Linked DNA regions of Homo sapiens: all the other regions are linked to region 2. The links come from fine-mapping of genetic effects on gene expression. A gene starts in region 2. Each other region holds a variant in brackets. All regions are shown on one strand. Distances are between the middles of the regions. Region 1 overlaps DNAJC6 (DnaJ heat shock protein family (Hsp40) member C6). Region 2 holds the start of DNAJC6 (DnaJ heat shock protein family (Hsp40) member C6). Region 3 overlaps DNAJC6-AS1 (DNAJC6 antisense RNA 1).

What was found. PIP is the estimated chance that this variant, and not a neighbour inherited with it, causes the effect. A credible set is the group of variants that fine-mapping cannot tell apart.
Region 1: its variant is the best candidate, but not a certain one, in a credible set for the expression of DNAJC6 in fibroblasts (GTEx, PIP 0.51).
Region 3: its variant is the best candidate, but not a certain one, in a credible set for the expression of DNAJC6 in whole blood (INTERVAL, PIP 0.83).

The regions. Positions count from the first base shown.
Region 1 is chr1:65,395,439-65,403,624 of GRCh38, reverse strand. DNAJC6 (DnaJ heat shock protein family (Hsp40) member C6) reads right to left here. Exons shown (of 19, transcript NM_001256864.2): 14 at 4,744-4,812; 15 at 1,745-1,864. Among named protein-coding and RNA genes, the nearest start is that of LEPR, 21 kb to the left of the region's middle. The variant G/A (reference allele first, on the strand shown) is at 3,368.
Region 2 is chr1:65,304,625-65,312,810 of GRCh38, reverse strand. DNAJC6 (DnaJ heat shock protein family (Hsp40) member C6) reads right to left here and starts at 3,268. Exons shown (of 19, transcript NM_001256864.2): 1 at 2,873-3,268. The coding sequence starts at 3,065. DNAJC6-AS1 (DNAJC6 antisense RNA 1) reads left to right here and starts at 3,577. Exons shown (of 3, transcript XR_007066155.1): 1 at 3,577-4,316; 2 at 6,226-6,378. LOC112268227 (a long non-coding RNA gene) reads right to left here and starts at 1,567. Exons shown (of 2, transcript XR_002958317.2): 1 at 1-1,567.
Region 3 is chr1:65,273,353-65,281,538 of GRCh38, reverse strand. DNAJC6-AS1 (DNAJC6 antisense RNA 1) reads left to right here. Exons shown (of 3, transcript XR_007066155.1): 3 at 3,240-3,314. It also overlaps a transcript of DNAJC6 not described here. Among named protein-coding and RNA genes, the nearest start is that of DNAJC6-AS1, 32 kb to the left of the region's middle. The variant T/C (reference allele first, on the strand shown) is at 3,712.

The sequences.
Region 1 (8,186 bases), 91 kb before region 2:
AAATGCTCCATCTTGTGTAGCCCCTACAGTAGCGGATATTTTACATTTGATTAAAGTTTCTTCCTCCCACTGTAGTGCAAGTTTCAAAGAACAGGAATATCATCAGCTTTGATTCTTTATTACATCCTGAATGCCTACCACATAATAAGTACTCAAAAATACCTGTGAAATGAGGGAATTAATGCTCAAGGGTAGAAAACCATTGACTGGATGAACTGAACTGATACCCCTTCCCACACTCAGCTACATCAACCTCTAAACCTTTTATGAGTGCAAGCTCCAGAGCTAGACTTCTTGGTGTTGAAAGCTTGTGATTTGTGCATGTTACTTAACCTGTTGTGTCCCTGTTTCCTCATCTGTAAAACGAGGATTATAACAGTCACTACTTCAAAAGATTATGAGGAAGATTAAATGAAATGATATATGTAAAACACTTTAAGTAGTGCCTGGCACATAGTAAGGCCCCAATAACTATTAACTGTTATTTTTATTGTTTTCATTATTTGACATTATATATTTGTTAATTTATTATTTGATTCCCCTTCTATAATGTAAGTTTTATTAAGGCAGGAGTTTTGTTTTGTTTGGTTATTTTTTTTACTAAAACAGTCCTAGCACCTAGAAGGCACAAAAGTGCCTTAAATACTTGTTGGATGAATCAATGCATTAAATGCATTAAAAATAAATAATAAATGAGATTTTATTGAAGTAAAATTTCATCTGATATAATATTACTTTAAAATTTGAAATTTTCAGTAAGATACAAAGAAAGGTGGAGAAGAAAATGACTGCATAAAATAATTTTGAGAGTTCTTAAAAGGGAAAAACATCTAAATAGTACAGAATGGAAGATAAAGATGCTGACACTAGTTACAGACAACAACGGTAGCCAGGCTCACATTCCCTCCATCTGGCTCTAAATGCCTCAGTAGGGCTTTCTGAGATCACAGACTATCAATATAGCCAAGATAAACCTTTGTGTCAGGGCTACCCCACCCTTATTTAACAAATCTGCACTGCCCTAGAGGAGGAAGGAAAAAGGAGGAAGAAAATGTTTCAGAACATAGTAGTCCAGTGAACCCCTCCTTGAAAACAGGCTCCTTGGTGAAATCAGTTTGAGAACTCTGGATACTGTGTCCCTCTTAGTGGTAATCAAAATCCACTGAAACCAGTGCTTCCCAATCTCACCTGCTCTCAGAACACTTATCCTGTAACATCTATTAACATATGGTGAAAATATTCTGGAAATACGATACTTGAGTCTATTTTCTGTATAGAATTTTACAAATTGACCGGAGAGCACCACAGTTAATGGAGAGAAGGGGAACGGTGTGAAGATCTCACAGGTAACATCACCGCATCACAGTTAGTGTTCTGCAAGGTTGGCATCATGTGGCACAAATCCATCTGACCAGCCCTGTCTCATACTGTTTCCCTACGCATTACTTTTGCGCAGCCAAACTCTGTTGCCATGAGCCCCTGAAAGCTCTAACTTTATTCATGCTACACATCCAGAATTAGGCACTGGAGAAATGAATCAATAAAGATGATTTCTAACCCCACATCTGATTATCGCTTTCCTTTTTTAAAAAGCCAATCTCAGGTTTCAGAGGATAGCTTAAGAATACACACTATTTGAGGTTCCAGGTGACAATACCAGCTTGCTGTAACACCAAAGACTGAGATTTGAGGCTTTATAGCTATAAATAAATGTTATTTGTATCTTGATCTTCTGAGTTTGTACCTAGTGTCCCAAGGTCGGCAAAAGGATCCAGAGTCTGGGGTTTGCTTTGATGGGTGGGAGTACCATGCGAGGATCCGGTTGGGCTGGTGGCAGCTGACTTGCTTCCCATTCCAAAGCCTCCTGAAAAGGAAATAAGGTCATTGAAAATGAGTTAGTTGTTTGAGGCTGAATTGTGAAATTCAGAATTCCAGAGTTACTGTTTATTTGTCTCCTAGGCAAATTAGGACAGGGTTTGAAAATGTCTAAGAAGTTGCTAGACCCTGTTTCCCTGACCTGGGTGAATGGTGGCCTTGAACAAGGACAGACCACAGAAAAGACAAATGCTGTTTCCAGGCCACAAGTGTGAACTATTATTTCCAGTGTTTGTTTTATTTCCAGGTCCTCATGTCACCTGACTTCACTCTTTCCTATAAGATTCGAAGTTAGGTCTGGATCTGGATTCTGGCTTTGCCAATTCCTGAGTGACCGTGGGAATCTTGCTTAACATCTTTGAGCTTCAGCATTTTACCATTAGTTTTAAAAAAGAGAAATAATATGAAACCAACATCACAGGCAACAAAAGAAAAACAAATGGGACAATTGTCAAGCTAAAAACTGCTGTTCAGGGAAGGTAACAATCAACAGAATAAGAAGGCAACAGGGTAAAAAGACTCTTATCTCTCACCATATAAAAAAATCAGCTCAAAATCCATTAAAGATTTAAATGTAAGACCCAAAACTATGGAATTACCAGAAGAAAACATACAGATGAATACCAGAAGAAAACCAACAGACGTATAAAACCAACAGATGTATAAAAAAATCCTAACAACACTAATCATCATAGAAATGCAAATCAAAACCAAAATGACATATCACCTCACTCCTGTCAGAATTGCTATTAAAAAAAACAAAAAACATGTTGGCAAGGATGTAGAGAAAAAAGGACACAGTTGGTGGGAATGTAAATTAGTACAGCCATTATGGGAAACAATTTGGAGATTCCTTAAAATATTAAAAATAGAACTGCCATATGATTTATCAATCCTGCTACTGGGTATATATCCAAAGGAAATCAAGTCAGTATGTCAAAGAGATATCTGCACTCCCATGCTTATTGCAGCACTATTCACAACAGCCAAGATATGGAATCAACCTAAGTGTCCATTAATGGATGAATGGATAAATAAAATATGGTGTATATACACAATAGAATACTATTGAGCCATAAAAAGGAAGAATTCCTATCATTTGAGATGACATGGATAAACCTAGAGAGCATTATGTTACGTGAAATAAGCCAGGCACAGAAAGACAAATACTGCATGTTCTCATTCACATGTGGAAGCTAAAAAAGTTGGTCTCATAGAAATAAAGAGTAGAATGGTGGTTACCAGGTGCTGGGGTGGTTGGAGGTAGGGCAGGGATGAGGAGGCATTGGTTAAAGGATATATTATTACAGCTAGAAAGGAGGAATAAGTCAAGAGATCCATTGTACAGCATAGTGACTCTAGTTAATGATGATCTACTACATTCTTGAAAAATCCAAAGAGAATGGATGTTAAATGTTCTCACCACAAAAATGATAACCATGTGAGGAAATGCATTTGTTAATTAGCTACATTTAACCATATCACAGTGTAT[G/A]TGTACTTCAAAACATCATATTGTACACGACAAATACATACAATTTTATCTGTCAATTTAAAGAAAAATCTTTTTTTGAGACAGGTTTCTCACTCTGTCACCGAGGCTGGAGTGCAGTGGTGTGATCTCGGCTCACTGCAGCCTCAACCTCCTGGGCCTAAGTAATTCTCCCATCTCAGCCTCCCAAGTAGCTGGGACTACAGGCACACACCACCATACCTGGCTAACTTTTGTATTTTTGTAGAGATGGGGTTTTGCCATGTTGCCCGGACTGGTCATGAACTCCTGGCCTCAAGGGATCCTCCCACATCAGCCTCCCAAAGTGCTGGGATTATAAGCGTGAGCCACCACGCCCCAGCCAAAAAAAATTTTTAAATTAAAAACAGAAGGAAATCCTGTCACATGTTACAACACAGATGAACCTTGAGGATATTATACTAAGTGAAATAAGCCAGCCACAAAAGTCAAATGCTGTATGATTCTACTTATGGGAGGTATATAAAGTAGTCAAACTCATGTAGAAGGGTGGTGGCCAGGGGCTGGTGGAGGCAGAGGTAGGGAGTTATTTAGTGAGTGTAGAGTTTCAGTTATGTGAGAAGGTCAGTGGGGAGGTGGGTTCGTTCTGGGGATCTGTTGCACAACAAAGTGCATGTAGCTGATAATACTGTATTGTATACTTGGAAATTATTGGCAGGGTAAATGTTACGTTGTGGGGAAGGGGTTGCTACAATAAAAAAAGGAAACAGCAACTGCTTCAGAAAGTTGTTGTGATAAGCCCATTGTGTATGTGTTTGTATGTGCACGCGTGCACTTAACTTGCTCAATGTCAGGAGCAGTCACACAAGACAGCTCCATAAATGCCATAGTGGTCATGAGGAGGAGACCTTGTTGATGACAGACAAATCCCACCCTGAAGTAAGTACTTTGTAAAGAAGGAAGAATATTCACATTTGTCAGCATCTACACTGTGCCAGAAATTCTTATATAAGTTTTTTTTATTTAAACTTACACAACTATGTGGGACCAAAATTATTATCCCCATTGTTCAGATAAGAAAACTGAGGCTCAGACTTGCCAAAAAAACCCAAGAGTTTCTAAGTGATAGAGTTTGATATATATTTATATCCGTCTGATTCTATTGTCAAGATAAGACATTCAGCAAATGAAATTTAGAAAAGTTAAATGGTGTATGATAAGTAGCACTATCATGTCATCAAGTGCATTGGGAAAAGCTCTTCTAGAATATGAATCTTTAGGAAAAAGTGACACAAATTACACAGGTAGGCCACAATACTCTGTGAGTACTCACTTCATCTTGGGTAAGGATTATGCTTTTGCAATTATATAAATGTGTACAGAAAATAACCTGCTTTTACCTGGTTTAGCATGCCAGTCCCAACCTCCAGAAACATCTGGCTGAATGTTCACAGCAGGCGTACTAGAAGCTGCAAATGGGGAAAAGAAAAAGAATGAGAACAAGAGAGCTCAGAACCCACTTTTCTGAGTTCACACAGGATAATGCCATTCCATCCCTGAAGCCTGCATGGCCCCAGCAAGATCCCAAGATATCCACTCCTCCTTCTGAGTTCTTGCCACACTCTGCAACATTCAATATGTTCTGCCTTCACCTCTGGTTGTTCACATGAGGCTTGACAGAAACGACATATTATTTGTCTCTGCTCCTTCTTTGTCTCACTTTGGTTTTACCTCCATATCCACACGCTTTGAGTTATCATTGAGCATGTGTCTGTCTCCATTCAATTGTCAGTCCCTCGAAGTCAGGAAAGAACTATCTTATGTGTGTGTGTCCCACCTCTAAATTTAACACAGAGTCAGTGTGCAATAAGAAAAGGGGGAAAACACCTTAAGCTCAGTTTACCTTTGCTAAGCATTAAGTATAGAAGCATAATCCACTCAAAACTGACATTTTGTTTTCTCCTCTGCTGTGACATGAGTTGAGAATAATGAGTCATGCAGAACATGTACTGGGCACTGGCTATACATCATCACTATGCTGGTTGTCAGGGATGTGTCTATGGTACTCAAAATAAACTCATTACAGCTTCAAAATAAATCATTCTGACCCCCCCTCAAAGTTCCAAACATATAATTTAAAAGAAATATTTGGCTAAAAGGAATCAGGTGTACTAGAGGAATACATGTGCGTAGTAAGTTTTTTACACATCTATAAAATCTATATAGGAAACAGGATGCCATGATGAAGAATTTCTTTCTGAGGCACCTCTAGGTTTTGCCCACACAAATCAATTATTAAAATGCAAATACTAAACTGACATTGCAACTGGGATTTAAAACACACACACACGCACACACACACCCCATCACCACCAGAAGGCATCAAGATTAGCATTCCAAACCTTTTATTTCCTTGTTTTGTTTACTTAGTACCAACCAAGTCATCTAGTACCTTCCCATCATTAAGTTAAAAAGGATATGCCATTATCAGCAATAATAATTCTTTCTTTTCTATTTATCCCTTCTATTTTTACACAGTAACCCATTCCACTGAGGTGGAAGTTAGACGGTTTTGCTAGTACGTTCTATCTGATTTCCTTTAAGCTCTGATCCTAGTCTTACATCCAATTAAGACGCAGAAGTAGGTATCAGAACTTCAACCCTGTTGCTAATCAAACCCACAAACCCTTATGACTACCTACCACATGCAAGGCACCACATCAGGGGACAGAGACTGAAAGATGCATTATCTATCCTCAAGAAACTTAAGGTCTGTTAGAGAAACAGGAATATATTTTTTCAAAAAGGTAATTACCTAATATTTTAGTCTCTATTTTGCCTTTTATTATGATTATTTATTTGTTCTTCCAACATCATGTCCCAAGTGATTATTCTCTTCAGAATAGATGTTCAATAAATATTTGTTGAGCCCAAAGGCAGTATTTTTTTTATTTTCATGAGAGATTGGCGACGCCTTGCAGAAACCCGGGGGAAGTACCCTGAGGATGTCTGACCTCCCAAAGCAGACATCTGAGTGTCACCTATATTCTGTCCTATGTGAAGACGGGGAGTTGATTCAGTAACAGTGAAATGATCATTGCTTTCCCAACAAGGAGAGGAGAAAATTCTTTCCACTCGCTAGTACAATACAGACCAAAATGAGAAATGTAACCACAAAACAAAGGAGTACTAACTGGCCTAAACTGGGTTATAAACACCATGTTCTAATCAGCTCATCAGAAACAGAAAACTGGATCCAAAACTGCCAAGCTGCCAAGTATGAACACCCACGTCCATGGGACACAAAGGGTAGTACTCTTATTAAAACAATAATTTCAAAGTATTAAAATCAGGAAAACATATAGCCTTATGACACTATCACTGTGCATCAAAGAAACTTTGATGGGAAAAATGAGTTAATTCATTTTATATTTAATATTGGAAAGATAGATAGCAGCTACCATGTGCCGGTAATTCTTTTAGGCACTATGGATGCATTAATGAACAAAACAAAATTCCCTGCCTTTGTGGAATTCATGTTCTAATAGAGAGAGAGAGATGACAAAAAAATGTAACACATAAGTTAATTACTGCATATACTGGAAGTTACTAAGCACAACAGAAAGGGGAATGTAGAGTAGGGCAGGGAGACGAGTTGCAATTTGAAACGGAGGAATCAGAGTAGACTCCACTGAGAAGGTGACATTTGAGCAAACACTTGAAGGAGGTGAAGGACTTAGCCATGCAGATGCCTGGGGAAGAGTATGAGGCAGAGGAAACAGCCAGTGCAACAGCAAAGAGGCCAGTACAGCTGGAATGCAGAGAGTAAAGTGGGAAAGAATGGGAAATGAGGTCACGGGCACTGAGATGCTAGAGCATACAGAGGCTACACAGGCCATTTCAAGGACTTTGGTTTTCATGCTGAGTAAAATGGGGAGGCATTTTGAGCAGAGCAATGACATGACTTAACATTTTAAATGAGTGAGAAAACCAACTCTACTCTACATTCCTGCATCTTTTCTCCTACAGGTAGTCAACATCCAATCAGGAGACTCTCTCAAGTGAGCATGACTCAGAGGTAAGAGGGGAATTTCTTGTATATTGTCCTGAGGATGCACTTCAAATAGTTTGAGATTAAAGACTAGTTGGAAATGAACCACAAAAGTTGTTCCTGGAATCTTTTTTAGTCAAGTTTCAGTTTCACCAGTGTTGCAAAAGTCATCTTCCTTTTGCATTGGCATGGTTTCCCAAAGTCAACTGATGACTGGACTGCATTCTCCAAGCAAGCTCAGGATGCCTTCAACAATACGTCACCTTCTAGGTTGTGGCCAATAATGTTCAATAGACTTCGACATCAGGAATGAGCTACAACTCTCTGGCTCAAAGTTATTTATCCCTCACTGCAGACCTCCGGTTTTAATCAATGTTACCTAAGTGACACACTTTTATAAATGGATGTGATTATTATTACTCTTTCTATACAACCTAAGTCTCTAACATAGAAATATAATTTGGGCCACATATGTAATTTTATATTTCCTAGCAGTCACATTTTAAAAAGTAAAAAGACACTATTGAAATTATTTTTAATAATATAGTTTATTTAACCCAGTATGTTCAATATATTATGTTAATAAATGATCAATATAAAAATATTGATGAGATGTTTCACATGCCCTTTTTGTACTAAGTTTTGAAATCTGGTATGTATTTTATACTTGGAGTGTATCTCAAATCAGACTAGCCACATGTAGAGTCATCAACAGCCACACGTAACTAGTGGCTATCATATCCCAAACTTTGTTCTTTGGAATACCAATTTTGTGGACTACTAACATATTTT
Region 2 (8,186 bases):
GAAAAAGGTTACTAGGTTTTTCAGCGAGTAACAATAATGCAGAGGTTTGATCCCAAGTCTCCAAGCACAGACACATGCTGCTTCCCCAACCTATTTAATAAAATTCTGGGGAAATGAAATAAGAGAATTGTCCAAGTGTTCTATTATAAACAGTCTTACAAGTTTAAGGTATTATTAAGACTAAGCTTTAAATCATGTAGCGAGATGTCAACATATTTTTTCCACTCATTAATATTTCTATCAGAGCAAAAGTCCCATAAACCACTGATCCTATCCAGCATGTCACAGTACAATCAGTTGAATAAATGGGCAGATTACTGCCACTTTAGAAATGATCCATGAACTTAATTAGATATACTAAACAAATGGATATATTTACACTGCACAGGCCACACTTTGAGGATCTTAGAAGAAAGAACTATAATTAGGCAAGACATATAGTTGTACTAGTAAAAGAATCCTACTCTCAGAGTCCAATCCTTCATTCAAACCAAACAAATCATTCTCAGTTGAAAATATGCATCAAAATCATTGTAAGATACCCTGTACTTCTACAACAAAGCCACAATATTCCCCTAATAAAATATAGGAGTGAATGATGGATAAGGGGAGGAGAAAAGGAATCCCTGCAGCCTCTTCACACAACACCACTTTGATCAAGTTTAAGAATCAACTCCTGGCAATAGCACTTTAGAGATAACAATATTCTTAATGAAACACTTTCCCATCACAACAGATTATTAAAGCAATCCATTATTCTTCTCTCCACCTATTAAAAAAGTCTGATTTAGTGAAAAAGACAATCCTCAAAAATCCAGGACTTACCATAGGCTGCTCTGTGTTATAGTTACTGCCCCCACTGAGAGTCCCCTAGAGGCCAGAAGGATCTCATTCACTACTGTGTTCCCTCACAGTGCTTGGCACATAGCTGGGCTCAGAAAATGTATGTTGAACTTATTCTACAATGTAACATATTTCAAAAACCAATTTCAACTCTTAAAATAATAATCCCTATGAAAAAGGAAAACATATGTATTTCATATTTCTTTCATTTTCCTGAAGTGAGGCTCCTTCACACTCATTTGGAATATGTTTGTTTTCATTTCAATTGTTTACATGCTCACTACATGTAAACATTATTATGGTGGCATCATTCAGAGAACATGAATCTTTTTAAGATTTAAAGGAGATTACATCCAGTCAAAAGATGGATTACACTTTGATATATCACAGATTTGAAAAAACATACATTGAATAACCACATACAACATCAATAAAAAAGTCCTGCCTGGGCGCGGTGGCTCATGCCTGTAATCCCAGCACTTTGGGAGGCCGAGGCAGGCAGATCACCTGAGGTCAGGAGTTCAAGACCAGCCCGGCCAACATGGCAAAACCCCGTCTCTACTAAAAGTACAAAAATTAGCCGGGCATGGTGACAGGTGCCTGTAATCCCAGCTACTCAGGAGGCTGAGGCAGGAGAATCGCTTGAACCCGGGAAACGGAGTTTGCAGTCCGCCGAGTTCGCATCCCTGCACTCCAGCCCGGGCAACAGAGTGAGACTCCGCCTCAAAAAAAAAAAAAAAAAAAAAAAAAAACAGTCCTGAAACCATCAATCCCTTGGGGATCATTTTAGTTTTATTTAAAATGGTCTAAGAGAATGTCCCATCAATATCTTGGTTAACTTCAATAAGAGCTTCAATGAGTAGAATTTGTTTTCAGCCCAGGACATTTGAGCATCTGTGGACAATATTTCATCCCACTTTGGGACAAGGAAAATAGAAAATAATAGCCCAAGGACAGCCATTACACAATTAAAATAAACAAGCATTTGTTTGCAAAGCAGGGCATTTAAATTCAGTTTGATTTCATTACTGTTCAAACGACCCCATATGAATCTTTCCTCTGGAATCCTCAGTTGTCCAGTATTAAAGTTACCAGTGTAGAACCAACCACTGAGGACTTCAATTATAAATATCTCTGTAAACAATTCTCCGAACCTGGTTCCCTGCAGAAGTAAGCAAATAGCTATAATAATACTCCTAGTCCAACATGGATATATTAAATGACTGTTTTGCTATTGAAATCGCAAATGCCAACAGCAGTTCCAAGAGAGGACTCTAACTTGCCAAACCTTTTATAAAAGACAGTTGCAAGCCCCGATACAAAGTTTAGAGGAATTTCCTTGTCCCTACATGTAAAGGTTTATGAAATCTGTACACTCAAGCAAAAGGACAAACAAGATCAAAGCCAACACATGAAATAAATTTCATTGTGCAAACAGTAAAAGCTGTGTAAAAGAGCTCTAGATCCCAGGTTAAAAACTGCAGGAGAAAGGTAACATTAACCCTAGCAGACGGCTGAGTTAAGATGTGGCAGAGCTTTACAGAATTGCAAATAGCATCAGCATTGCAAGAATAACAATTGGAATAAATACCGTCTGCATGCTGCAAAAACAATCAACGCACATGCTCCTTCACCTCTCCCCCTCATCCAGCTGGGCAGTGAAAGCAGCTGCCTCTCCCAGCCCTCCTCCCAAGCCGTTCTTCGCCCCACCCGCTCCCCTCTCTTCTCCACCCCTCCCCTCCTCCTTCCCTCCCCCTCCCCGCCCCCAGCTGCCGTATTCAGCAGTCTAGAGAGATTAGGAGGAGCTCGCTACAGTCTCTGGGCCTCAGGACTGATCTAACGTTTCGTAGCTCCCTGGATGAGAGAAATTAGAGACTCGACACCCAGGTGGTATTAGAAGCCTTCGCCTCCAGCCCGGCTCTCTCGCAAACCGGGGCTGGGGGACCACGGGGGGGCCTCGGGCCGGGCGACTGGGAGGCTCCGGAGGCCGCGCGGGGCTCAGCGCTGCACTCCCCTCGGGCAGCGCTACCTGAGCTGTCCATGGTGCTGGCGCGGTCCGGAGGCTGTCGGGCGGGACTCCGCGCCGCTGCCCCGGCGTTCACTCTCTGCTTGCCGCCAACCCCGCCGCTTCCCGCACTTAAGTCCCCGTTACTGTCCACCAGCTGCAAAGATTCATAACCATCGTTGCTGGTCTTTTTCCGGTAGCTCCCGAGGAGGCTCATGGGCAAGCCCGGAGAAAAGAGAAAATAATCAACCTGGGAAGCGAAAAGGGAGATGGAAGGTGGAAAGGGCTGAAGAAGGAATTAAAAAAAAAAAAAAATTAAGTGCCCGACATGACGCAAAGAGGAGGGAAAAGAAGGAGCGGCCACCGGAGAGAAGCTTCGCCGGGCGAGGCGAAGCCGCCGCCCTGGGCTGAGCTCGGCTCGGGGCGCCGGGAGGAGGGAGGGAGGGAAGGAGACGCGGCCGGGCGGGGGCGCGCGTCCTCTGGGCCAACGCCGCGGAGCCGCCCGGCCCTGCCGAGCTCCGGGCCCCAGGCCAGCACCTCCTGGCTGAGGAGTGCCCGGAAGCAATCCTATAGGTGTCGCCGCGTCGCCCCGCCGCGCAGCAGGGCAGCGCCAAAGCCGCTGGCCCGCGGGGAGGGAAGGAAAGGGAGGTAGGAAGGGAGGGGAGGTTCGTGAGGAGGGGGGTTGAAGGGAAACGGGGCGGGGTGGTCGGGGGAGGGGACTACTACGACGTGGGTTGGGAGGGTGTGTTCGCACGCGTGTGACAGAGAAGAAAGGGGCGAGGTATCTCGGCCTGCGAAGCTTTGAGGACCAGGGGTCTTGTGGTAAAATCCAGACACACCCATTTCATGCAACTTAGCCTATTTTCACCGGAAGATTCCGCCAAAGCCACCAGGACGGTAACCGTCCTAGAGAACTGACTTGTAACTCAATTCAACAGAAAAAGAATGCATGTTAAGTGCCAGAATATATCTATGCTAGGATATAAAGGAAGAGCAATATTTTGCACATTCTCCAGAATAGGGATGATCCCTAAGGGAGATATCAAAGAGTTGGGTATTCTAATACTAGGAGGCAGCGTCCGTTCTGCCTAGAGAGCAGATGTGACTGTTTAGAACTCTTTGTTGAGCGAATAAACTGGGGAGAAGGGCAAGGTTAAGTCCGACGCATTTTCAGATCCGCCACCATTTACCTTAGGACCTGGAGAAAAGACTGTTTCAGTTAGCTAGCTTGAAGGCCTGCTTGGGAAGCAAGATAGACAAGGATTTTTTTTCCCCATCCTCTAGCCTCACGCCTTATTTTTCTTTCACAATTCTGGCCAAAGAAAGCAGTAACTCATAATCAGAAGAGAATTTATCATGAAGTTAATTAAGCTGTGTACCTAATTTTGTATCTGTCATCGTGTATTCTTAAAAGAAGACTCCGACATTGTATAAGTTCTGGATCTGAACAAAACCTGGATAAACTCTGGTAAGTCTTAAAATGTAATTATCGAATGTTTATTTTCACCTAAAATAATAAGATTTCAGAAGGATTGCTCATTCTCATCATCTTAGGTCAAGATCAAGTAAGTCTTGGTTAAAAATTATCATTTTCTCTACTAAAACTTGGAGGGACTAAGTGAGGCGCCCGTCAAGAGTCATTTGACAGAGTTTCCTCACCAAAACAGGAAAAAAGTACGTGCATGTAAAATGTACTTGAGCCCATACACAAAGCCAGCTTTGCTTTCTTCTCATCTTACATGGTTTTCTCTTGCTGTCCTTATATCAATCACCTAAGGACACAAAATCAAACAATAGCATCTAAGAGACTTCAGTCCAGATGATTTGGGTCTCAGAAAGTTTCCGGGAAGCTCTAGCTCTACACAGTTCTACATAAAATAAATTGGACTAAGAGACATTTTCCTGTACAAGGATCACCCAAACACAGATTCTTGTAGGAAGAGCATCAACCAGAAGAAGTCCAAAGAAATGTTTTCTAAATCCTTCCAGTCCTTCTGGGGAAACCTAAACTTCCTGGCCAGTTGCTTTCCCAACTGCATTCTTTGATGAGGTATGGTGTGACCTGAATTGCAAATCAGAGTTAATGCTCATTTATAACAAGATCAAACAATCTGAATGGTGGCAGGAAAAACTGCAATAAAAATTTTAAAACAAATTTTTATACTTTCAATTTTCCAAATCTGTCAGATTGAATTATTTTAGTTACTTGACTAAAGTAATAATTCTGTGAAGTCTAGTAAATCTTTTCCCATAACATCTTAAATAATCTTTCTCTGTACTTTTTCTTTTAATTCATTACAGACACACAGGGACAGTAAATACCTAGTGTTCATCATGTGCCCTGACAAATGCTGGACTATAATCATTGGATTAATAGAATTTAGAACCAGCCTCAGTGACAGACTGAGACCCTGTCTCAAAAAATAAATAAATAAATACAGGATCATTTTTGAAAAGTGAAAATTATTATTTTCAAAAAGAGCACTTTCAGTTATTTTTGCTCAACTTGCAGACATATTGCTGAAAGAAATTATAGATGAGACATATGCCTTTGTATTTTTCAATATCTATCTCTGGAGTTTGCAAGTGTAAAGAAAAATCTGAATGGGCTATAAGAATTTTATCTTTATACTTAATATAAATAAAGTCAATCAGGATAACTATTAATAATCCTATAAAATTGAAGATATAAGAAGCATATTAAGGCAGGAAAATACAATAACTAGGTTAATTTACAACAGCCTAAAAACTAGGGCTTGGGCCTAAATTTGGATATGCACCAATTTCAACATTAAAATTTTCTTTACTGTGCTAAAGATCAAATTCATATACTTATCAATGAATATCTCACTGTTCTACTCTATAAAACAAGCATAATATGAGTACCATCATTATATAGAAGAATTAGATTAGTACCTAACATATATATATATATATATATATAGAGAGAGAGAGAGAGAGAGAGAGAGAGAGAGAGAGAGAGAGAGAGAAACAGATTGAGAGAGAGAGTAGTACTTAACAATTGTTCTCTATTACCATTATTGGTCTGTCTTGGGTGCAGCTTTAAGCTCAGCGCCTGGCAGTCTTAGTTTTTCAAATGGGAAAAGCTCAATAAAGGCTAAATATTATTTTTTCCAGGGATATCCTAATGGAAAATTGTCTTTGTAACTTTGAATGAGAATTTGGGCTTAAGGGAGGTGGCACTGGTCAAACACAAGGTGAACATTTACAGCCTAACTCTTGGTTTTCCAAACTCAAGACTACTTCATAACTTATCTCAAAAATACTACATCATACATGAGACAACGGCAAAGGATAAGATGCCCTCTTCTGGGGACAGCAATCATTCCCTTTGTCTTTTCTCTTGCTGCCTTCAGGTGCTTTATTAACTTGATGAAGATTAGTGACACTGAGGAATACTGAGGAACCAGGCTCTATTCCACCCCATCCCCTTCATACACACCTCATTCCAAATGCTATCCTGTCACAGCAGATGCCACATCACTTTTGGGGTGGGCTAAGAGATCAAGGTATGTATGCCATGACCTATGTAGGATTTTGATCTGTGATTTTCATTTCCAGAGAATATAATACATTGATTAAAATTGAAGTTGCCAGCCAGGTGTGGTGGCTCACACCTGTGGTCCTGGCACTTTGGGAGGCTGAGGTGGGCGGATCACGAGGTCAGGAGATTGAGACCATCCTGGCTAACACGGTGAAACCCTGTATCTACTAAAAATCCAAAAAAATAACCAGGCGTGGTGGCAGGCACCTGTAGTCCCAGCTACTCAGGAGGCTGAGGCAGGAGAATCGCTTGAACCCAGGAGGTGGAGCTTGCAGTGAGCCAACAAAGCGAGACTCTGTCTCAAAAAAAAAAAAAAAAAAATTGAAGTTGCCTATGATTGATTCTTAGTTCCAATGACTCCTGGCTCTATGACTTTGGGCAAGTTACTTAACCTCTCTGCCTCATTTTTCTCCTCTGTAAAGTGAGGATTATAGTAATGCCATCATAATAAGGTTATAGTAAGAAGTAAATTAGTTCCTAACATATAATAAGTGCTTAACATATGCTATCTATTATTACTATCATTCCACTTCTTTTTAAAATGTCACTTTTTCAAAAATGCAACTTCCCATCTGTAAAATTAAGTTTAAATCTGCCCAGCTTACCTAAGAGATTTGTTATCATTATGACTATGATAACATAAAAGCAGTTTGTCAAATGTGAACTGATTGTTTTGCCCTGAGTTTTTAAATATTCACGTGTATGTATTTCCTATTGGATTTGGACTCTTTGAGGGCAAAAATCCATGTTTTGTTCATGTTTGTGTCCCCCATGACACTCCAAAGAGCACCTCGCTCTCATTAGATATTGAGTAAATATCTACTGAATTAATGAATAAACAAAAATGTCATGGCATTACCTAGTCCAGTGATTTAAACTATATGCTGTAGCCGATGAGTAAATTATAAAGTATTTTCATAAAAATGAAATAGGTTGGAAAACATCAGAGTTTGGAACGCAGTAAGATATTGTTTCTTAAAATATTGTTTTGGGTTTGTGTGATATGTATGAGTGTGTGTATGTTTCTGCTCAGTAATGATATAAATGTATTTCTCACTGTGTGTCCTGATTATAAATGTTTTTGAATGTCTATGTTATGGGACAATCTCTGGTACTAAGAGGTCCTAGTGTTCCCAATTATGAATGTCCTATACACTGTGACATCTGAATTCATTTGGCTAATTGGACCACAAAGAGTTTTGGCTAAGCAGACAGTAAATGAAGCCAGAGCTTCTACTCTGTTCTCTCTGTTACAAAATATATTATGATCAGGTTTCTAAAATGCGTCTCTTCAATTTTCTGTTTTAACAAACATAAATCAATGCACAGTATTGAAACTTACTTTGGCAATGTGCCTGAGGGCCATAATCCAGATTATCTCCTTATTGAATAAGGCCTATAGATATACATAGTGCAAGGCACTTCAACTGGGGAACATCAAGCCATCTCTGACTCCCAGATGTGTTTTGTCGGTCCTGTACTTCTTAAAATGAAAAACATTTTAGTTTAGATGCCTTTACAGAGGGTATATAGGCTCCAGTCTGAGGACCATAGTTCACTACTACTTCCCAATGTAGAATACTCAGCCTCCTCCACTCATTCCTATTACCAGTTAGCCCTTGCAGGCATTTGAGTTTGAGACCTGCAGTGTAGTGGCAAAACCTTAAGGAGAAATACCCCCAAGAGAGATGCCAAAAGACACATCTTTAGGCCACAGTCCAGAAGAAAGCAAAATAGACCGAGAATCCTCTCCTGACTCTGCTCTTAATCAGC
Region 3 (8,186 bases), 31 kb after region 2:
CTAAGTGAAGGCAGCCAGACCACATACTATAATTCCATTTACAGGAAATGTCCAGAATAGGCAAATCCGCAGGGACAAATAGATTAGTGGTTGCCAGGGGCTAGGGGGAGGAGGAAAAGGGGAGCGACTATTAATGGTTTCCATGAAAGCGTTATGGAATTAGATAGTAGTGATGACTGTACAACCTTATGAATATACTAAAAACCACTGAGTTGTACACTTTGAAAAGGTGAATTTTATGGTATGTGAATTATATCTCAATTTTAAAAAAGGAAAAAGTCCACTGAGATTTCATTTAAAATTTGAAACTTGAGCCGGGCACAGTGGCTAAGGCTTGTAATCCCGTCACTTTGGGAGGCCAAGGTGGGCACATCACTTGAGGTCAGGAGTTCGAGACCAGCCTGGCCAACATGGTGAAAGCCCGTCTCTACTAAAAATACAAAAATTAGCCAGTGTAATGGCGAGCACCCACCTACCCAGAAGGCTGAGGCACAAGAACTGCTTGAACCCAGGAGGCAGAGGTTGCAGTGAGCCAAGATTACACCACTGCACTCCAGCCTGGGTGATAGAGCATGACCCTGTCTAAAAAATAAAATAAAATTTGAAACGTGAAACTTAATTTTTTTTAGCCATGTAATTTTCCCTTGAGAGGAAATCTACCTAATATGAAAAAACATCTCCACAGAACTCTAACACTCACTCAGAAAAGCCCAGTCTGAAAATCTCTCTAATAAAACCCACTTCTCCCATGTTTACAAATGAAAAAAATTAGACCAAAAAATGAAAAGACTGCCTTAAAGTGAGTCAGTGACTGGACTGTAAGAAGGAAAATTTCTGACCTCCTAACTTCCAGGCCAATGGATTTCTTCATTTCACCTAGTTGCCTCATTACTTTAAAAATCAAAATAACCCTCCTATCCATGGAAATAAGCAAGAAAGGCTGAAAGAGAGAGAGAAGAAGGAATGGAGGGAGGAGTCCTTTTGCACCTTGTCCACTACATCATTTGTTTACCCAGGGATATGAATTATCCTCCTAACACGTAAACATATTGTCCTGGTAAAAGTAGAGTTTGAATGGATCAAGTGTCAGTTTCTAAATCTTCTTTTAATAACTGAAGGCCCAGTTATTATTACAAAATATAACATGGCAGTATTTTACAGACACTAAAAATGTGGAGAGTGTTTGGGCCGTCATATTAAGTGAAAAAAAAATATGAATAATCTGAACTCAGTACATTATATAGATACATAAAGATACACACAGAAAAAGAATCCACTCAATTTAACAGCAATTATCTCTAAGAGACGGGACAATGAATGTTTTCACAGGCTTTCTCTGTGCTTTTCTGAATTTTCATAATTTCCTTTTAAGAGTATATATACATTTTAAATTATGTTACACTGAGTACCTACTATGTGTTAGATATTATGCTAGGTGCCTTTAATATATTATTTCTAATCTCGCAACAACCTTATTAGGTTCTAATCTCACAACAACCTTATTAGGTATTACTATTTTCACTTTGAAAGTGAGGAAACTGAGGCTCAGAGAAGTTAAGGAACCTGTCTACCTTGCTAAGTTTAAAAGAAGCGATCCAAGGGTAGCTTTCTTTTATCTTCCCTGACTCCTTGTCTTCTCTTCTTTTCTCTATGTATTAAGGACATATGCCGTGCCCAAATTTCATCTAATAATTAAAAATACGGGAAGTGACACAAAAGGGAAAACACAGGATGCTCTGGAAACTTGTTATAGGCAGCGAGTGGGAAGGAGACCTAGAGTCAGAGGAAGCTACTACTGGAAAGAGGAGCAGAACTGAGCCAGGCAAATAGGAGAGAAAATGTATTTCAGGCAGAAGAAACAGCACTCTGGAAACCCAACATCTAGCCTTTGAGAATGTAAAATGAAGCCAGGATGACACTACCAATTCCAAGCTGTGTGTGTGTGCATGCATGTGCATGTATGTGTATATATATTAGATGTATATTTTAACATTCTGACTTAACATTAATATTAACATATTAATATTTATTTATTGAAATATTTAACGTGTATTTTAATATTAAATTCTGGATTTCCAAACCAGATCAGAAATAGTCTTCACTCTGTTTTCAGTAGGTCAGATCCCACAGGGCAAGAGGGGGAGGAGACAGCTCCCACTGTTTCTTGGCCTTACCTCCACCCCCATCCCAATTAAGGCACGTCCCCTTCCCTGCAGCTACCTCTCTAAAGAGCCCTCTCCTTTTAACACTGGTTCCCAGATTTTCCCATTTATCTCACAGCAGCAGGAGTCACAGCTGGGTTCAATCTCTGCACGCCACCATCACCGCCCCTCCCCCAAAGTTGTAGAAATGTTATTCTAAATTTAAACCACACAGCACCAAACTAAAAATGGCTTTAAAAGAGGATCAAACATACCTTGTGCTGGGCTCTTGTTAGATTTCACAGGCACGAATTTCCCTTTTTCTCAGCATATGCAGTCAAATGATTCTTAGGTGATGAAACAAGTATCTCCAGGTTTGCAGGAAATAAAAGTGTCTGTTTTTAAACTGCCATGGGGAAGGGGATGGAGGAGGGCAGAAAGAGTAGGGAGTGAAGTGCTGACTCGCAGGATACATCTGGGATTCTGAGAATGTCGCCCAGCTCCAATGTTAGCGCATGCCAGATTCTTCCCCACCCCTTTCCTGATCAATGAGTTAGGAAAGTCAGATGAACTAGGAGTCAGAAGGCCTGAGTACAAGTCCTGGTTATGAGACATTCCCCCAGTCCCCAGGTAATTTTTCCTTCCCAAGCTTCAATTCCCTCGTCCATAACATGAAGAGGCTGAACTTGATCAGAGGTTCTCAAGCTTTCTTTCTCTTTGGCACTTTCTTTGTTACTCTATCAGTAAAAAGTTCATTTTCTTTATTAAAGTATAACAGACATACTGAAACGTGAACAAACCATGTGCTGAGCTCCAGGAATTTTCACAAACTGGTTTAAAAACCAGCAGCCAGATTAAGTAACAGACTATTTCTGGCATCCCAAAGCCCTCTTACTTAGTACATTTTCAAGTACTAGAGTCAGAGTTGGGGAACATATCTGAAAAGACTGAAAAGTAAGTGTCAGTTTGTTTGTCTGATTTTAAAAGAAAATTTGGAGAAATGTGAAAAACATTTCCACAATTCCACCAATCACTCTGTTGCCTTTCAGAACTATGTCACATGAATTGACCTATTTAATTTCCCTGATCATTTACTAGAATTGCCATAATATTGATTTGAAAAAGGAGACCTGAGCACATAAGTGATCAAAAACATATGAGATGAATGAGTAAATGAACGGAGCTTGCATTTGAGAGGCTGAACACATTGGCAGTGACATGAAGCACATGAGAATGACAGCACTAAACGCAGCGCGCAACCTGGGAAAGAGGCTGAAAAAATACCTACTCAGCCACGGTAAAGGGTTTAGACTGTAACCAAGTACCCACCTTTTTCTAAGAGAAAGAATTACTTTTTTAAAAAATACTTTTTTCTTCTTTTCTGTTTCCTCCTTTTCCCTTGTTCCCCACTTCCTACTTAGCTCTTTAGAAATGCAATTATAACATTTACCTTTCCTTCACCAGACACTCCCTGTAGGGCAAGCTTATCTGTGTGCTTACTTGGAAGCTCTTGCTTACTTAGAAGCTCCAGAGCCAGACGTCTCTTCGACCAGGAGACTGCCTCGAGAGA[T/C]AACAAATTATAACCTAAAGTATGCCCATGATGAAACTCACTCCCACTTGGAGAGTATCTCAAGACTCTGGCCACCTTACCACCTAGTTCTGCCCGCGAGGGCACCAGCTCAACCACCTGGTAGATAAAGCACCAAAGCAAGTCATTGAGACCCCCACTGGCTCACCCCCTCCCCTGCATGCCATTCATGTCAAGTCCCCCTTTGAAAACCCTTGCTTTTTTGCCCCAAAAGTGAAGCAGTACCCTTAAAGGCAGAAGCCTGTACTTCTCCCCCTCAACAAAGCTTTGGAATAAAAGTTACAAGATCAAGTTTTCTAAAACTTTTTGAAACTCAATCATTCAAATTATTTTGTACATTTTAGGATCATGTTGAATTGGGAGGTGAGAGTCGACAATTACAAATCATAAAATCACAAAAGTATTAAAACATTTGAATGGAGAACCAGACTCAGAAAAATTATAGTCTTTTAGTACACATATTCTCTGGAACAAAGCAACATATATTTGTAAGAATTTCAGAGTACATATGAAAAAAGGTACTGACAAGCTTTTAATAAGGCAAGAAAGAGTAACTAAAAATCAACATATATCCTTTATTAAATTTACATGTTTAAAATGACATTGTTACCTTGGTTTTTGGCCTGTGATTTTTATTTTTTAACATAATCCACTTAAAACAAACAAAAAAAAACAGACGTGTTTAACTTCCAGCTTTAATAGAGTAGGTTGTAGCAGACTGGTTCTGATGAGGGAAATTAGAAAAGCCAGATAAAATTTTTAAACATCTGTGTGAAGTAATAGGAAAGCTACTAATCAGCCACGATTTGAGGAACCAGATCTTGGAGAGAGGGGAGGCTCACTGAGGTGAGCCTGACTTTCTGCAAGCCCATTTTCCTATTTAGGGTATATGCCAATTCTTAGCATGGGGTAAGAAGCTGAAAAGCCAGGCAAGGGGCAGCTGTTAAGACACAGAGAAGCCTGCAGAATTTTAGACAGTTTCAAGGGCTGCAGAGACAAAAAGTGGAGTTTAGGACTGAAAAGGCATATCCTAGAGTAACTCACAGCCTGACAGGAGTTTTCTCCTTCAGATATTCCTGACTCAGCTGCCCAGAGCAGAGGCTAAGAAGCCAACGAGAAAGCAAATGAAAAGCACAATGAACATTTTGCTGAGTAGAGTTTTCAGCAAGTTCACAGTATTAGAGAGACAAAAATTAGAGTTTAGGGTCTGTCAAGGGGAAGGGGTGGTGAGAAACATCTCAGACTCTCAGTCAGTTTCCCTAGGGGCCTGGGATTAGGAGAACCAGAAGTAGACTAAACCTTAAAAGTCTGCAAAACAGCCTTAATTAGACTGAGTGCCTGATTGAAGTGATCTCTGTTCTACTTCTGACAAAGAGTAGGAAAAATACTCTCAACAGGTAGATGACATCATCCAGAGCATCTTCATACACAATACTGGACATATAATAAAAAATTGCCAGGCATATGAAGAAAGACAACCAAGAAGAAAAACAGAAGAGATAAAAAGACTCACAAGTGGCCCACACATTGAAGTTACTGAGCAAAGTTTTTTAAGATGACTGTGATGTATGTATTTGAGAAAACAGATGACAAGGTGAAGAATCTCTTTTGGTAAAGAATCTAATAGAGGCTGGGCGCGGTGGCCCACGCCTATAATCCCAGCACTTTGGGAGGTCAAGGTGAGCGGATCACTTCAGGCCAGGAGTTCAAGACCAGCCTGGCCAACATGGCGAAACCCCATCTCTACTAAAAATACAAAAATTAGCCAGGCATAGTGGTACATGCCTGTAATCCCAGCTACTCAGGAGGCTGAAGATCGCTTGAACCCAGGAGGTGAAAGCTGCAGTGAGCCAGGATCGCACTGCAGCCTGGGCAACAGAGGGAGACTCTGTCTCAAAAAAAAAAAAAAAGAATCTAATAGTAACTCTAGAACTGAAAAATACAAAACAAAATTAAGAAATTAATGGTTCTGTAACAACAAGTTAAACATAGCAGAGAGAACCAGTAAGCTCTAAGATAGGCCAGCAAAAAAATAACAAAACTAAAAAAGAAAGAAAAGGGCTAAGTATACAGAAAATGAAGGAATATATGGGACAGGGTAAAAAGTTCTAACATAAAGGTACCCGGAGTCCCAGAAAGAGAGAAAGGAACAAAACACTGTTTGGAGAGATAATGGCAGGGAATTATGAGAATTACAAAAAACCTCAAGCCGCACAGATTCAAGAAGGACTGAAAACCCCAAGCAGGATAAATACAAAGAAAACCACACCTGGGACAAGTGTTGAAAACCAAATCAATTGAGAAAAGTCTTAACAACAGCCGAAGAAAAAAGATGCAACACCAAATAACAACATAAGACTGACTGACAGCCTGCTTTTCCAAGAAAGGATGAAAACCAGAAGACAATGGGATAACATGTTTTAAAGTGCTGGGGGAACACCTGCTTCCCCATAATTCTATACACCTAGTAAAATTGTCCTTCAAAAGCAAAGACAAAATCAACTCATTTCCAGATCATAAAAACTGAGAATATTTGTTTCTAGCATATATGCACTACAAGAAATCCTAAAGGGAGTTTTTTTCATGCAAAAGGAAAAGATCCCAGAGGGAATACACAAAAAATCCGAAAGAAATGAAAAGCAATGAATAGGGTAAATATGTGGGTAAATTTAAATGAATATTTATTCCATAAAACAATCATTACAGTGTCCTATGGGGCTTTAATAAATGTATAATTAAAACAAAATACAATAATAATACAAAAGGCAGAAAGTGAGGTGAGGGAGAAGATAGGGTAAATGGAGTTAAAGTCTTCTAAGCGCCTAACATTGTCTGAAACATGATTAAATATAAGAAGCACTGGGGTAATCACTTGCACACGCACGCAGGCACACACACGCACATACACACAAAGAAAAGTAAAATGAAAACAAATGTGTAAAGAATATGTTGGAAAGTTAAAAATAATGCTTGATTAATCCAAAAGAAAGTGGTATATAAAACAGATGGGACACAAATAAGAAACAAGGAGTAACATGGTAGCTATAGCACTTAACACATCAATAATTATATTAAATGGTTTAAATATTCAAACTAAAGACCATATTGTCAGACTAGATTTTTAAAAATTCACTTATGGCTGCTTCTAAAAGATACAGATTACATATATGGGTATAGAAAAAAGTAAAGTATAGGCTGGGCACAGTGGCTCATGCCTGTAATCCCAGCACTTTGGGAGGCCAAGGTGAGTGGATCACCTGAGGTCAGGAGTTCGAGACCAGCCTGGCCAACATGGCAAAACCCTGTCTCTACTAAAAATATAAAAATTAGCTGAGTGTGGTGGCACACGCCTGTAGTCCCAGCTACTTGGGAGGCTGAGGCAGGAGAATCGCTTGAACCCAGGAGGCGGAGGATGCAGTGAGCCAAGATCACACCACTGCACTCCAGCCTGGATGACAGAGCAAGACTCCATCTCAAAAAAATATATAATAATAATAAAAAAGAAAAAGTATACAAATGGGAAAAGATCTACCATGTATCTATTAACACAAAGAAAGTTGGTATAGCTACATTAATATCAAAAAGGTAGATTATAAGGGAGTATTGCTCAAGATAAGGAAAGACATTTCATAATGAAGATATAACAACTATAACTGTATATGGTATGCACCTAATAACAGAGCCACAAAGTAAAGCAAAAATTGGCAAATATAAAAGGAAAAATAGACAAATCTAAAATTATAATGGAAGAGTTTGCCCTCTCTTGGGAACCAACAGAATGAGAAAAAAATCAGTGAGGATACAGAAGATCCGCACCTCAGGATTAACAAATTGAAATAATTAACATATATAGAACATGGAACCAAACTATCTTAGTATGCACATTCTTTTAAGTACAACATATAAATATAAAAATTGATCATATGAAGGGTCACAAAGCAAGTCTAAAACATTTCCAAGTCATCCAAAATATATTCTCTGACTACAGTGAAAGCAAGCTAGAAATCAATGGCAAAAAGAGAACTAGAAACTCCCCAACTGTTTAAAAATTAAAAAGTATGTTGTTACACTACCTTATGGGTCAAAAAAATCAAAAAGAAAAGTATAAAATATTTTAAACTAAATAATGAAAATATAACAATACTTGCAGGTGTACACAAAAGCTATGCTTAAAGGATATTATATATATAGCTTAAGGGATTTTTTTTTTCATTGAGACAGAGTCTTGCTGTGTCATCCAGGCTGGAGTGCAGTGGTGTGATCTCGGCTCACTGCAACCTCCGCCTCCCGGGTTCAAGCAATTCTGCCTCAGCCTCCCGAGTAGCTGGGATCACAGGCACATACCACCGTGCTCAACTAATACTTGTAATTTTTTAGTAGAGACGGGGTTTCACCACATTGGCCAAGCTGGTCTCAAACTCCTGACCTTGTGATCCACCTGCCTCGGCCTCCAAAAG